Linked DNA regions of Homo sapiens: region 2 is linked to region 1. Evidence: fine-mapped expression QTL. Tissue or cell type: subcutaneous fat. Region 1 holds a variant in brackets; the other region holds the start of a gene. All regions are shown on one strand. Distances are from middle to middle.

Evidence for each region. PIP is the estimated chance that this variant, and not a neighbour inherited with it, causes the effect.
Region 2: it holds the start of HOXD3, and the variant in region 1 is fine-mapped to the expression of HOXD3 in subcutaneous fat (GTEx, PIP 0.95).

The regions. Positions count from the first base shown.
Region 1 is chr2:177,122,737-177,130,999 of GRCh38, forward strand. The region is part of intron 1 of LOC105373760 (a long non-coding RNA gene); the gene reads right to left. Among named protein-coding and RNA genes, the nearest start is that of MIR4444-1, 86 kb to the right of the region's middle. The variant C/T (reference allele first, on the strand shown) is at 4,686.
Region 2 is chr2:176,153,598-176,161,597 of GRCh38, forward strand. HOXD3 (homeobox D3) reads left to right here and starts at 3,710. Exons shown (of 4, transcript NM_006898.5): 1 at 3,710-3,855. RefSeq lists an enhancer at 1,670-2,173.

The DNA.
Region 1 (8,263 bases):
GCCATGGGATTTTCAATTCACTCAAAAACCAGTGCTTATGCTGCTATGTTTTCATTACACATTTTCCTTACCTTCCCCAAATCCTAGCTTTATCCACTCTTTCATTTATTTGTGTTTATTCACCAAATCTTTATTTAACACTACTGTGTTAGATTTTAATGCGAGAGGAATTTTTTACACCTGCATTTCTCTAACTTCCCATATCTGAGGAAGCACCTGAAACACAGAGCTCAAGACCAGCACCACTTAGCTAAAAGTCTGGTCAAAAGATCACATTGATGATAATTGTAAATGAACTGACTATAGGGTCCAAAAGATTCCATGTTGCATTCAGAGTAAAATGCAACATGGCTTTTTGTGTGGCTCCTGCTGACCTCTCTAGGAACACCTCCCCCCACTCTGCACCAAATATTTTAGAGAGCTCAAGCATCTCTTCCTCCCAGAAACATTCCTAAAGTCCTAGCCTCCTCCCCATCTCCACTGTATCTACCACAAGGTACTCTAATTTTCTGCTGAACTGATCGCTCCTCCTAGAGGCCAGTGGTTCTCAAGCTTTATGGAGAATCAGATTTAGTGGGTCTGGGGTAAGGCAAGAGAATATGCAATTCTAACAAGTTTCCAGGGATGCCAATGCTGCTGGATAGAGATCACACCTTAAGAATATCTGCTCTAACCTACCAGTTCTAACAAGAAAAAAATCCCAATTTACTTTATTTTGTATCCCTGATACCTAACACAGTATGGCATACAGTAGACAGTCAAACGACATTTGTTGAATAGAAATAATGTATGAACTAGTGAATCCCTTGTTATTTTGTGTTGAATGGAATGACAAATTGGTCTCCAAGTGTAAGAACCCAAGACACTCCTCCATCAGTATTAAGTTACCTCTTATAATAAGTAGAGGGAAAGTGCTCCTCTCCTGGCCTCTGAGCTCCAGCATACTATCTGGTGCTGCTGAAAGTACAACTTGAAAATGCAATTTATTTTAGACAGGTTCTCACTCTGTTGCCCAGCCTGCAATGCAGTGATGCAATCATAGCTCACTGCAGCCTCAAACTCCTGGACTCAAGCGATCTTCCTTCCTCAGCCACCCAAGCAGCTGGGACTACAGGCACATACCACCGCACCTGGCTACAATAATTTTTGCATTTTTTGTAGAGATGGGAGTCTGATCTAAATTTTATTTTTAATACATAAAATTATGAAAGGCTTGATTTGGCTGAAGACAAAAATGTAAACAAACCTTCTCTATGGTTAAATATTCCTTCTTTAATAGTATTCATATGCAAATAAGTAAAAGAAGACAAGTAAGATACTGGCATTAGAAATATGTCTTGAAGGCCACTAAGTTTATTTCAAAAAAAGTATGAAGTGCTCTTTCCCAAGATCAATACCTTAAATCAAGTTGACCAAATTTATTTGATAATCTGAGAGTTTTGTTTAAAGTACAGATACCCAGGACCCTCCTGTGGAGAGTCTAAATTTCAACAGCATATAATGGGGCCCCCAGAAATCAGTCTTTTTTAACAAGTTTCAGGTGGGGCCCACATAGTGATTGCTTTAAGCTGCCCATCAATTAACTAACTAATTAACAAGCAGCTAGTACTGAGAACCACTGCAGGAACTCACGTAAAAATTTTCTCATGAAACTATTTTTGGCCTAATATTTTTCACCTGGAACAGGTTAGGTCATGGTGCAAAAAGCCAGGTTCTCAATCTGGAATGTTACTTTCTTGCCCTTTGGTTTCCTGGAGGGAATAAATGTGTAAGGCATTTCTACCACAGATCAAGTTTTGCGTCATGACACAATGGGGCATGAGCCACTCCAACAATAACAATAGAACCATTAGTCAAAAGACCTCAGGAAAAAGGGAAACCTGTCACAGGATGACGACAATTACCCAATTATTCTGAACATAAAAAGTAAACCTTTAATATTTGTCTTATGGCATCAGAACTATGGCATGATCTGGAGAAGTAATTAGCATATTGGAATTTTATGCTGGTACAATGTCAGGGTAAAATAAAGGTGGGCTCTGGAATGTACGGTGGGGAGGGTGGAACTAGAAATGGTCTTGCATTTGAGTACAAATATGGTGGTATCAACAATTAACTTTCCGCTAAAAAATAGTTTTCCTGTTTATACGTATGTACTGGTAGAAAAAAATTTGATGTTGTTAGATATTATGTTTGGAATAGGACTTCCTTTGAGATAAGGTTATTTAAGATGATAATTTTAATTCAGAAAGTGAAATGTTCTATCTTTTAAAAAATCAGATTATCTTGAAATCATACGTGCTTTCCTACCTCACTTCACTCACTTGCCTTCATGTTAAATCTCAAGAATAAAATCCAAGCATTTCAGCAAATCACTCTACATTGACCTCTGCCCAAAGATCTAGAGGAGGCCAGTCAGGCTTCGAAAGGACTGAGGCACTTCGGTTCATTAAATTGTTTAATATGAGCACTAATTTTTACAATCGTGTAATAAAAGTAGGTGTTTTCCAAAATGAACCGTAGACAAAGATAGAAAAGAATATATGCCTCTAGGACACACACCCATGGGGACTTTACAGCTAAGAAGTCGTTATTTTGCTAAAAATTAGTGTTGCAAAGTGCCATTCATTGTTAGCATAGCACCAGCACATAGGAGTCACCAGATGAATGTTTGATGACATTAGTTTTCTTTTATAACTGCCCATGTCTTTCATTAAACAATGACCATCAAAGAAATTATTTCTTACAAAAGAACAATTTGAGGAATGAGAGGCTGCAAATGTACAAACTACAGTTCACTGCATTTTTAATAAGAATTTTGAGCACAATAAAGATTTTATATCCAAATATATTATGAAAAAATGGATGCTAATGCTATGTTAAAAGGTTACCACACTAGGTTTATTTGCCTCTTTCTTCTTTTCTCATATCCTAAGTCATAGGCTTTAAAACAAAATCAGGTCTGAGATTCATGTAATCGTCCCCATTTTAGTGTCTGTGCCGTCTTTGGGCATCACTTGGTCCTGTCCGCCAGTGATCATGAAGGGAGCCTGGTCTGCACTGGCTAGGAAGGGAGGCATTGCAGCAGGCTCTGCCTCGGTCCACGCTTCACTCCCACCCGATCCCCCACTGACTCAGCTCATCTTCAACATCTTGTGTGGAAGATAAAATCATTGTGATGTACAGAAAAATCTACACCGAAAACAGGAATAAGAACAACCTCCCTCTCTCCTATCACCTGAATTCACATGGCTACTTAAAGTTAGTAAATTCAATAAAATTAGAGTTTAGTTCCTCAGTTGCAGTAGCCACACTTCCAGTACTCAATAGCCGTCTGTGCCTAGTGGCTACCATATTCATTATTGCAGGGATAGGAAGGTCTATTGGACAGCGCTAGTCTCCAGAGGGCCAGCTAAGGAGGGGAATAACGGTCCCCTAACCACTTGACACGTTAGCCAAGGAGGAGGAAAGAAAGAAACAGTGTAGTTCCCTTTTTTCCTTAGAAAACTGTTTTACTTCCACCAAAACTAGCCTGAGTGGATTCCATCCTTTCTCTTCCCCAAATCTTGCCTCCTTCCTGACTACAGTGGGGAAAGAAGTGGTAGTGTGTGAGAGATTTTGAAAGCAATTTTAAAAAACCAAAACAATGCATATATCTTGTATTTCGAATGGGCCAGGCACATTGGCACAGTGGCTCATGCCTGTAATCCCAGCACTTTGGGAGGCCAAGGTGGGAGGATCACCTGAGGCCAAGAGTTCAAGACCAGCCTGAGCAAGATGGTGAGACCCTGTTTGTAAAAAAAAAAAAAAAAAAAAAATTAATTAGCCAGGTGTGGTGGCACACACCTGTGGTCCCAGCTACTTGGGAGGCTGAGGCAGGAGGAACCCTTAAGCCCACAAGTTCTAGGCTGCAGTGAGCCGTGATTTTGCCACTGTGCTACAGCCTAGGCGAGAGAGACAGACCTCATCTCTTTTTTTTTTTTAAGTGATATGCCTGCATTTGCATTGCTGGCTCATGCTTGAAACCAGCTCACTGAGGTAACTTCTATATGGAAGTTGCTCCTGTAATCCCTAGGTGTTCCACATGGGCACATTGATTCAATTGAAGTTATTTTAGTAAGGCAATCATCATACTGATTGTTACTTGGAATTCGTATTCATGCTGCTTTAAGTAATAGCCTTTAACTTAATTTCAAAGCTTTAAAATAATTGTTTTAATATTGATGAAGACCGGTCTTGCTACCAATCTTAAATAAAAATCTTATTGGCAACAATCCTACATATATTAGAATATAAAAAGAATAATAACCAATAGTAATGAAGTCATTTTTTTCTTCTTCATGTCTGAAGAGCACACCCTTCTATTTCCAACACACATGGGTGAAGCTGAAGAGACTGACTATGGTAGACATTAGTAACATTCCCCCGTATTCAAGTGTTCTCCACTTCAGGACACACAAAGATTATAATTCCCCCATCCCCCTTATTTTATACATAGCTATGTAATTATTTCTGGCCAATGAAATGAGAAAAGGAAGTGAAATGCATTGTTTCCAGGCAAAAGCAGTAATTGGCAGTCTGTGACTCCATTTTTCTCTTCCTCTCTTTGATGAGCTCTGAAGTACTGCAAGGGCAGGTCACTATCTGAAGATGGTCAAACCTCCATCTCTCTAAAACATGATCTT[C/T]CTCTGCTGGCATAAGAAACTGTTAGTGTTACTTTGAGATATGAAACCAGATTTTTTCATGTGTCTGTCAGTTAAATACCATTATTTAATTCTTTTAGGGCTCTTTTTGAGAGTGAGTCTCCAATAAAACTCTATTAGGATGTGCTATGGTTGTTTTTTGTTTAAGGTGGAAACAGAGTTTTGCTATGTTGTCCAGGCTGATCTCAAACTCCTGGACTCAAGTGCTGAGCCTCCCATCTCAGCCTCTCAAAATGCTGAGCCTCCCATCCTAGCCTCCCAAAATGCTGAGATTACAGCATTTGTAATGCCACATTAAATCTTGTGCCATGGATTTAATCAAACACAAACACATCAGGCTGAGCGTGATGGCTCATGCCTATAATCCCAGCACTTTGGGAGGCTGAGGCAGGCAGATTGCTTGAGCCCAGGAGTTTGAGACCAGCCGGGGCAACATGTTGAAACTCTTTCTCTACCAAAAATCACAAATTAGCTAGGCGTGGTGCGGCACCTGTAGCCCCAGCTCCTCAGGAGGCTGAGGTGGGAGGATCACCTGAGCCTAGGGAGGTCAAGGCTGCAATGAGCCAAGATCCCACCAACCTGGGCTGTGTGCCTGGAGCTGTCCTTTCAGTACCATCTGAAATGTCATCCGTGCCCTGACACCACTGCTGTATATTATGTGCGTGTAGGTGAGCTTCATGTGAACCTTCCCTGACACGTCTTCCCTCCTGTGCTCATTGGAGTGGACCTCCATTGTGCATATCATGGTGCACTGTTAATTATTCATATTTAAGACAGAGAACTTCTGGGAGGGTGTCTTATATTACCCTTTTTCCTCCAATATGTAGCACTTTGTCCGAGAGAAGATAAGTACCAAATGTTTGCATGGAGAATGAATAAACAGATGTATTTACAAGTCTGCTCATACCTGGAATGATCTAGAGCCACAAAGAGCCAACTCCCTTTCTTTACAATTAACTTCATGTTATTGTTGCCATATTTTAACACTCCTAAGATGACTGCCAATTAGCATACTATATTATAAAGTAAGAGAATGGTGAGTCATTTGTTGAAAGCCTTTAAAGATCATTCACTAGCACTCAAGGCAAATGATATATGGATAAAAATAGCCAAAAAAGCACAGATTGGGATGATATACTAATATAATTTTAGAAAAATGATTCCCAACTTTTTAGAAGTGTCATACTTCGTAATTGATTATTGGGTTTTATGACATTTCCTTATCCCAGCCTTAAAATGCTGTTGTTTTATATATTTACTTTCAAAAGGCCTAGGTAAGTGATCAGTTTACCCATATATTTCCTTCTATTTCTCCTTTTCAGTTTTGAAGACAGACAACAATTTTCCTCTATGTTACTTTCAACTATTATGCTCCAACCACAGCAAGAGTAACTCTGAAAGGTTAATCCCTTGGTTCTCAACCTGGCTACATCTTAGAATCACTTGGGGAACTTTGCTAAAAACACAGATGCCTAGGCCTCACCCCCAAGAGATTGTGATTTAGCTGACTTGGGTATGATCCAGATTATTTTAAAAACCCTACAGTCAGGATTGAAAACTACTAGTTTAGTCAAATCATCAGTTGGAAAGAACACTGGACTGGGAATAAAAGGGTCACTCATTCATTCAATACACATGCTTGTCAGCCTTCTCACCACCTACTGAATACTATACTAAGCCCTGGGATGCAAAGATAAATGAAGCACAGCCCTAGAGAGGTTCACCGTCTGACTAAATAGAAAAGTAAATTACTTAAGTGCTCTAATTAAAAGAAACAGGGGACTATGACAGACCAAAGGAGGAGGGGAATTACTTAATCCTGGCTGGGAGGGTTAGAAAATTCTTTTTGAAAGAACTACATTGTCCGGGATGTTGAACAAGGTAGCATTTAACCTGGCAAGAAAAGGATAACAAAGACATCCAATAGAGAAGACAACATTCATGAAGTATAAAATTGTGATACCGTCAGGGAACTGAAAGCAGTTAATGTGTCTAGAGCTTGCCATTGGGTAAGTCAGGGAGGCAGCTGTGGAAGAGGAGGGGGAAAAGCAGGCAAGGGCCAGGTCATGACAATCCAAGGGGCCTCAGTTCTGACAACAAAGTCATCACAAGGTCAGAAGCCACCTGGCTATCTATGAGATATACAGTGACACCTGAAATATATTGCCACTGAATTGCGATATACACCTTGCAATGAACTCCTGTTCCTGCCCAGCAACATGAAGGCATGGCCTACAGGGACAGGCCAAGGAGTGGCTTAGAGTGCTTTAGCTCCTCTGTAATACCTGTTTTTATTCGCCTCTTCCAGGGGCTATCTCAAATGAAAACAAAACCTTGTTGTTATACAAACACAGCTTCAGTACAAGTCCTTGAACACCTCTTCCAACTGCAGGTCCTCCCCTGAGCCCCATCCTGCCTTTGAAGTGGTATTACATTGTGGTTCAGCTCACAGTTTCTGGAATCAGACCATCTAGATCCAGATTCTGCCTCTTATTACTTACCAGCATTATTATCCTGAACAAGATACTTAACTTATCTAGGCCTTAGTTTACGTACCTGTAAAATGGAATTATAAACAGTACCTCTTTCAGAGGCTGTGAGAATGCACTGAATGTACAGCACTAAGCACAGGGTCTGGCACAGAGGCAGCATTCCATCTGTATTCGATCTAAAGCTCCACTGCAATCAAGGTGGTCCTCACTCCAGCAGCTCCCATGTCACAGGGACATGAGTGAGAAATGCCACAGCTTAGGCCCCACTTCCAGTCACCTAAACCAGAATCTGCTTTTTAACAGGATCCCCAGGTGATTCACATGCACATGAAAGTTTGAGAAACACCGCCACAAAGTATTATCTAGCTGCAGCATTCTAAAATTTTAAATCTCAAAAGCGGGGAATGATCCTGTTTACTCAAAGTAAGAGTGCTGAAGGCAATGGTTCTCGACCTTCACTGGGCATCAGAATCACATGGTGAACTTCTAAAGAAATCACATATGCCTGGGCCCAACTCCACCAACCCTATGCCACCTCCACCTCCCTAGAGATTCTGATTCTGTTGACCTAGGTGAGTGGAACCCAGGCATCTTTTTTTTTCTTTTTAACAAAGCTTCCCACATGATTCTAATGATATTGAGACCCACTGGTTTAAAGAGAGCATTAAATTCTGACAAAGTCTACATGGCAACTGGGCTTATCAGGAAAGGAAGCTGAGTCGGTAAAAAGAAGCTAATCTGTGAGTTGAGGAAGCAGTTCCACTGAGACCTGCCAGGCGTTTAAAACCTCCGCTGTTCTCCTCAGGCTGTAACGGCCTTACCTTCTCCATGTCTGTACCTGTGGTTTCTACTCCAGTCCTTCACTCCCCCTCTCCTTAAATCTTGATGAAGGCGCTTGACTCTAGCGTGGCACATTCACCTCCATTGCACCTCTGTCTGCTTCCTCCCCAGCAGCAGCCCTCTATGGCTCAGGTACTGTCTGGTGACTCAGTCCGTACTGCCCAGTGCCCCACTGTGTGCTCACCCACATCCTATGTTTTTGACCCAGGGCTGGTCCTCGATCCTGGT
Region 2 (8,000 bases), 970 kb before region 1:
TGCCAAAAATCTTAAAAAGGTGAAAGGGGCTGAACTTCAGGGAGCAGAATCAGAGATATGTGCACTTACTTCTGAACTCCACCCCTCCCCACTCTCTGGAAATGTATATAGGGGGGCCTTAACCCTTCCAGAAGGAAGCAAAGGATTCACTCAAAGTTGCATTCTTGAAAATATATTTCCACATGTGTTTTTTTCAGCACTGTGCTTACAACCAGTTCTGGGTGATTAAAGGAAAGGGAAAAAAACCAACAAATGGTCCAACATTTTCCTTCTGGGGAAAGAAAACAAAACCTCTATGCACTGGGTCATTAGATAATGACTGAATTTTCTGTTCCAACTGGATTCCAAATGCCCTAAATACCCTCATATAGCAGTGTTTTACAGGAATTAGTGTATGGCCTGTGTAGGGGAGGGGCTGTGCAGTGGGGAGAAAGTGGGAAGGTGAGGAACTCTTGCTTTAAGAAGGAAAAAAAAAAAACCCTAATTGAATCTAGAAGTCCACAAAAGTTAGCCTTAGAGTTTTTTTCCCCCTGAAGTTTTAATTTTTTTAAAAACCAAATCTAAGGAAGTTTTCCTCAGCTCATTAATTAGAAGCAGAATTTGTAAAAGTATAAAAGTTTTCAAGCACTCGTCTTTGCCTTGAGAATAGTGGTTTTTTAAAGAATCACTCTCAACAGGGGAGATGTCCTCTAGTCGTTTTTCTTCTGCCTCTCCTGGGAAGGGTTCAAAGTTCATTTTTCTAAAATGCTGACCCTCAAGCATAAGGAGGAAGAAGTCAAAGTTAATGGCCAGAGTTCATATACTCAGATGAAACCAGTCTTCCCAAGGCCTCAGGCTCCAAAAAAGGTTGTAGCTATCAAAAAGTGACCAAAGTGGGAAAGGGAGAAAGGATAAGCTTAAAATTTAATTTTAAGATCCAGAAGGGGGGTATTTTTTTCAGTACTTCAAAAACACTTTAGAAGGTTTCTGTTGTAATTTAAAAAATATATTTAAGTGGGAGGGAAAAAAGAGTTTCTCTGTAGGCTTGTTCTTTGGCTGTGTCTCCTGAGAGCTGAGGGCAGGTATTCACTGCAGTCCCTAGGCTGAAATTCCGCTTCTCTGAAGTGTCTTCCAAGCCTTGGTCTTTTGTATTAGACCCTGGGGACTGCTCTTTGTTTCTCCTTGGGGTGAGCCTGGCTCTCAGACTTGCACATGGCAATACTTGAATGTCACCACGTCGGGATATTAAAGATGGATATTCGTGCATTATTCACATCATTGTTTCTATGACAAAAAGCACAGAGTTCATACATAGTCAAGACGTCTTTTTTCTGACGCCCTCACGTTGAGAAGCTGAAAAGGTATTTTACCGAAGTTCGGGTAAATTACAGAATCAGGTTCATCCAGAGGACAAATTTTCTATTTGATTAGCTGTATTTCAGCCGGGAGGACTGACCTCTAAACCCCTAACCTTTTGGACTCTAACTACCCTTCTCTTCTTTTTTCCTCTCTAACATGGAGAGCAGTCTTTGGATGTACCATTTGAAAGGAGCCGCTATCCTTAGGCAAGTTGGAAAGTTGCTAAGCTGCTTTCCTAAAACCCAAATCTGTCTATACATTGAACCTTCTCTTTGAGAAGGGGAAAAAGGTATATATTTTCACAACATCCAATTACATATATATAATAGAGATTTGTTGTATAGATTTTCCCCCACCTCAGAAGTTCAGGTTACTCACCCCCAGTTTCATACCAAATGCCACACAGGCTTAACTGACTGCATCCCTGCCCCAGAGGAAAGCCAAGAAACATGTTTTCATGAGGAAAACCCAAGCTCCTTCTCAAACATAGCCCCACTACTTTGGAAAGTAACTTAATCAGAGAAACAACTTCTTTGTTTATAAGTCTCAGCTCTCCTTCTCAGCTTGGAGGGATTCTTTTGAAATGTTAATGGAGCCTGGATGGCCCAGAGTGCAGCCCCCAACCCTGAGGTCCCAGTCGGACCCCAGCATCCATTTGGGCCCACAGGAGTGGGCCAGGGAAGGGGTAGGGCCCCGTAACCACTTAGGGCAGGGAAGGAAATGGGTTTCCATCTGAGAACGTGCTTTGGAGAAAGCTAGGTGTGGAAAAGCTCCAATGCCCATTTGCTATTATTTGTTTCCAGTTTGTTCCTTTAAATATGAGCCAGAAGTGTTTGTGTTGGTGTTTTAAAAACAAAAACAAAAACCGTGTTGGGGTCCTGACTGGGGGAGGGGGAGAGTGAAGTGTTTGCTGAGGACATTGCTCCTCTGACTCCCATCTCACTTTGTCCATCGCAGCCTTTTGTTGGGAGATGACACTGTCAGTCAGCCCATGATGTCTGTTCACACGAGATGCTTTTTTAATAGAATTGACCAATGTTTTGCTGCCACTGATTAAAGTATTATTTATACTAATTGTTGCTTGTAGTTTTGATGTAATTCATTGATCTATATTTAAAATAATAAAAGGTGTAGCAAAATCTCCCTCCTGTTTGGTGCCTTAACAGAAGCATTCATCCTTTGTTAAGTCTTCTAAAAGCTAACATTTAACATAAACAAGTTATTATTTTCTGCAATAAATTAGGCACCATTTTTTGGGGGGTGCCTAAAGTGTGAAGGTTAAACCATGTAAGGCTTAGCAATTCTATTATTACCACCTCCTTAATGTACACACACTCCCAGTTGGCCACCATATTTTGTGAGCATTGGGAAGCCTGGGGTTGAATTCAGGGTACAGAGTGTTGGGTGTTAATTTTTTGAAGAAAAAGTAATTGCCCAGGTTAATAGGGGGATCCAGGTTGGCATTCTGCTGGGCCCGGGCCAGGCCCCAGACCTTTTTGGTCTGGAAGCCCTCAGAGGAAGTCTTTGGGAAGTGGTGGATGAGACACCTTACTGGTCCCCCACCCCTAAGGCAGGGAGAGCGTGCTGGGTTCTGGGCCGAGCTGAGGCTCCTGGGTGGCTGCTCTGACCTGACCCCCGGGCCTCCACTCTTGGGCTTCTACTTTTCCAGTACTGTTAAGCTCCTGTGGGGACTCCAGCACCTGCCCCTCCTTCTTCCGCGCCCCCTCCACCCCTCAGGCAACAATAAACACTCCCCACTATAAAAAGTGCCCTGCACTACATTTACCGCAAGGGCTTCTTTACATCTTGGCCTCGCCTTGAAGAAGGGGCCAAGACAGGAGTCCCAAAATAGATGGGGGTGCTTGTTCCAGACAGGAAATGAGCAGAATGCATAAAATCAGACATCTGTCCTTAATATATGGAAGGGCTTGCCCCAGACGCGTGGACATGTGTATTTATAAGTGCGCAGGCAGAAGTTTAAATATTCAGACACATTTTATGATTGTCCTCTGCCCGTCTTCTGCTTAATGGCTCCTCCCGTGCCCACCAATACATCAATACCGTTGTGTGTATTGAATCGCGGGCAGGGATGAGGAGGAAGCGAGTCCATAGCAGAGCCCGCTGAGTATAGAGTACAGTAAATCGGGACCCTCGGCGGACGGCGCTTCCCGCCCGCCTGCCCGCCATGTTGGGGAGCCCTCCCTGCCCCCCGCGCCGGGCTGGGCGGCCGGGGCTCGCTGGCAGCCGGGGGAGGGCCTTTCATAACCCGGAGAATTTTCTAAGTGCGAGGAAGATGATAAGAATAGATTTCTACAAGTCCCGACCACGTGATTGGCGAAATAATTAATTCAGCACGTCCCTTAAGAAACACGGAGTCGTCATTAATCTGCCACGCAAAGGGCTCTCTCCGACTTGGAAAGTGCAGGGATCCCAAGAATATCACCCGTCCAGGGGGGCCGCGCGGTGCCCCCGGCCCTCCACCCCCGGCCCCCGGCGGGCGCGGGAGCGCGGCCGCAGGTAAATATTTTGGCAACTTTTATTTCATCAGATTTAAATCCTTAATGAACTTAGCTGTCACGGCCGCTGACAAATAGTTCCCTTTGCTTCCTGATTTGGAACTGCGCGCCGGCGAGAAGTTGTTAGTGGCTTGGATGGTGACCTTTGGTTCAGCAAAGCTTTGCACTTATGAAAAATTACTGAGAGCGGCCGAGTGTGTGTGTGTGTGCGTGCGTCCGCGCGCGCGCTTGTGTGTGTGAGAGAGGGAGAGACAGAGACAGAGACAGAGATAGGGAGAGGGTGTGTGTGCGAGGCGCTAGGGTGCCAGGGGGCGAGGGGTGAGGGGCGAGGTGCACGCGGGCTGCTCCAAGACAACAGGAGTTGTAAAAAACCGGCCCGGCTGGCGGACGCGCCTGGCGCACGCGGGCCGAGGTTGCCTGGTCGCCTGTGTCTACCAGGAACAATGGTCGCTGTCACGGCATCTGCCGCCTATTCTTAAACCGGTGAGAAAAGGCCCTGGCCCTCTTTTCAAGCGAGGGTCGTAAATTTTTCTTTGCGTCATAATAGAAGGCTATAAAATCGAGTTGAAATTTTACCCCAGGCAGGTTTTAACCAACAGATAATGATTTCCGAGTTGCCTCTCCCCCCGCTCCTCTCTCCCCACCCAAGTTCTGCTGCCTCTGTCACCCCAGCGAGTTTCTTCTTCTTTCCCGTTTATTTTTGTGTTTGTATTTTTTATTTCTATTTTGGAAGAGCTAAAATAAACGCGAGAAGAAGTCCCTGCAGCCCGAGTGGGAGACCCCGGGGCGACGGGAAGCCTGGGGAAAGGAGGATGGGGGAGAGGCCAGTGCGGGCTGCAGAAGGCTGTTTCTCTGCTCGCTCCCGTTTCTGCCTTTTTTCACCGGCACTCCAAGAAAATTGGGTGTCCTAAGAGCCACTCCGCTCCGTTCCACCCCATCCCCAGCTTGCCAGGGTCGTGGGCTGGGGCAGTAGCGAGCATTCTTTTCTTCCAGCTTGCAGCTCCGACCCGGGCGCCTCTTCATTCGCCTCCTTCCCTCTTGTTGCTGTGAGATACCTCCATTGGCTTTCAGAATGATTTCAGCGAGCAGGGGCTGGCTGCGCGTGGTGGTTGTTTTGGGATTATGTGTGCGTGTGTGTTTGTGTGTGTGTGTGTTTTCATTTATTTTTTGGTGTGTGTATATTTCCCCGTCAGGACAGAAACAAAGTTTCCCCCATTATGAATTATACATTCAAACAATAACACATTAATTCAATTATTCAAAGATGACAAATGTTTATGTGCTTTGCGAGTGACTCGGGCGCAGATTCCAGGCGCTTTCTCTGAGCTGCTTGCATTTTTCTCAATGAGAATCGTCTCCCCTCCCACCCCCCCCACTCCAACCCACTCCAACCCACCTAGATATCCCCTTGTAGGCCCAGAGAGGAACCCACAAAAAGCTTCCCCAGCCCTGCTGGCAGCCCGGCAGCCAACAGCCTCCCAAGGCCCCGGCTTGGCGGGCACTGGCCCGGGCTATTTTATCAGTGTGACAATTGCCCGGGTTGGTGTGATAAATCATCGTAAGTAATTCCTGAAAGGGTGCGAGACTGTTGGGGGCCGGGCGAGGACTGTAAATCTTTCCGGTTTATTGCTCTATGAACATATGCTCCGATTGAAGAAGGCTTAGATCCTTTCCTGGAGACAAATTCCCGCAAAGCAGCCCCCCTCTTTGGCTGGGGATTAACACTTGCTGCTGGCCGTCAGGTCGGCCTCTGGCAAGAGGCTAGGGGGCGGGGTCCTCCGGGTGGGGGTGGGCTGGGGTCACCCACGATCCGGCTTCGAGAGACGCCCCGAGTGGGCCTCTGGCCAGGCCCGGCCAGGTGAACAAAAGGATGGGCTCGTAGACGGTTCTGGGGGCTCGGGCCTCCAGGACATTCCTGCGCCTCTGGAGTGGGGATGCGGTGGACCTTACCCACTCCTCTGGGGCTCTTCTATGGCTGCTGGGCACTTTCACCGGTCTCAGACCCTGCAATCAGCAACAGAGCATTTCACTGTGCCTGATGCCGCTGAGCAGAGCTGGCAACGAAACCAAAACTTCGGGGACAGGGTGGAGAGTTCCCCGTGGTGCGGGATTCCCGAGTGTGGCCCCGGCTGGGGGAGGGTCTTGGGCGCTCATTACAGGCCAGGAGGTCCGCTGCTGGCGCTGGCACGCTTAATTCTTTTTTCCCACATTGCAGAATCATTCCCACCAGCCACTCGGAGAGTGGTGGGAATCTGTCTTGGTTTAATATTTCTAAAATATAAGTTTCATTGTCCCCCAGGTTAGCCCAGCCAGGACTCATTGCGCAGTCCTCCTCGCCTTCCTGGAGGCGCCGCAGGAAGCGGGAAGTCGCGGCTTGGCGGTTGCTGGGCCTGTGGGATCTGCGGGTCCTGCCCAGACCTGGAGTCGCACAGATCACGGCGGGCAGTGGCTCAGCGCCTAGGCGGCTCCAGGCCTCGAAGGACCAGGTTGGGGTGCTCAGGGATCAGAGAGGGGAGGTCGCTCTGGGTCCGGGTCGCCTGCTACGCGCCTTTTCTGTCTCAGAAGTGGCGGTGACTCGGCTGCTGAGTCCGCGGAACGAGCCACGGAATGGTGGTGGTGGCGGGGTTTTCTGAGGTGACTGGCCAGAGCTGAGAGTCGCGGCTTCCACCTTTGGGCCGGAGCGGGTCCTCGCCCTGGGAGGAGCTGGGCGTCGGCCTCCGCGGCGGGGAGGCCGCCTTGCCGGGGTGCATGAGGCTGCGGAGTACTCCGCGGGCCCGGGAAGCTAGGGGTACCCTCAGCCTCTGCTGCTCCACGGCAGTCTCCAGAGACGCTTCTAAGAGAGGCAGTTTCTAAAATTTCCAGCTCCCGGACCAGTCTGGCGGAAGGCCCAGCCAGGGTCAGAGGTCGTTGTGGGGAGAGACTCTCAACGCCCCCAACCCACTGAGGGCGGCCAGGCCAAGACTGAGTCGGCCCGGAGCTGCGAAAATGTGTTCTTTCCTTCCGCCCCACACCCATCCGCGTCTGCCCCAGGAATGGGGCCCAGGTCCCAAGCCTCCTGCGCCCTTCCTTCCAGCCCCCAGGCTTGGCTGCGCTCCGGGACTGGGTGGCGTGAAAGTTTCAGCCTCAATCAGTACAAGCTTCCCTCGGGGTCACGTGAACAAATATGCTTGCATTTGAAGGCAGCGTCTGTATTTCCCGACTATGAGGGGGTTTCCGGGGCTCTCTCCAAATCCAGAAACGACCACGTTCCGCAAGCAAAACAAATCCCAAGCTCTGGGGGGCCTGGGAGGGCTGGGCAGAAACCCAGGAGTGGGTGGGGGCGCGGGTGGCTGCCGCTCTGGGCCCGAGAGCGGACGGGCGGGCGGGTGGACCGATGGGCGCGCAGCGCAGGCGAAGCCAGCTCGGGGACTACGAACTCGTTCCTCCTGCGTTTATTGGTAGTTGAACCTCAGCCTGGTTCCGTTCTACCGGGAATTCCGTGTGCTCGAGTATATGGCCGTGTCTGCGAGCGCGCAAGACCAGGGTTGGGACAGTGTTGTCTGCAGACAAAGGGGGAAGGCTAGCTCTGCCCCCCACTGGCGCCCACTCTGAGGCCGAGGACACCAGGTTTATGATAAATTGGGATCCAGGTAAGCAATTGCATGACAAAATGGAAATCTTTGGGCACGGGGCTGCTTGCCGCCCTGAGCGGGATATTAAATATGATTTATTTTGTGTAATCTGTGATCTTGATTATTGCCAATTGGTGAGGCAGCCCGCGTAGACCTAGATACACTGCTACATATACATGGAGGACGGTGATTAATCGTAACAAGGCGCGCTTTGTGGGGACGTTCCCCGCCTACCAAAGGGTTAGGAGGACACTACCTTGCCAGGCTTGGAGGGTGGCCGGCAGCATTGGGGGTGGTAGTAGCAGTTTAAGGAGGGGATCTGGTGAGGGGATTGAGTGCTGGAGGAAATATTTGGGGGCTAAATGTGCACTTAGGAGAATGGGCTGAAAAAGAAATTAAAACTTTTTTACACTTTACTGCCAAAGTAAGATGGAGCGTCATATTAATTCTGTGTCTTGAGCTGCCGGGCTGGGTGCAGGCGGGTTGATTTATATGTATTTAAAATAAACTCGGTGGTCAGCCAGCTCCCTGCATT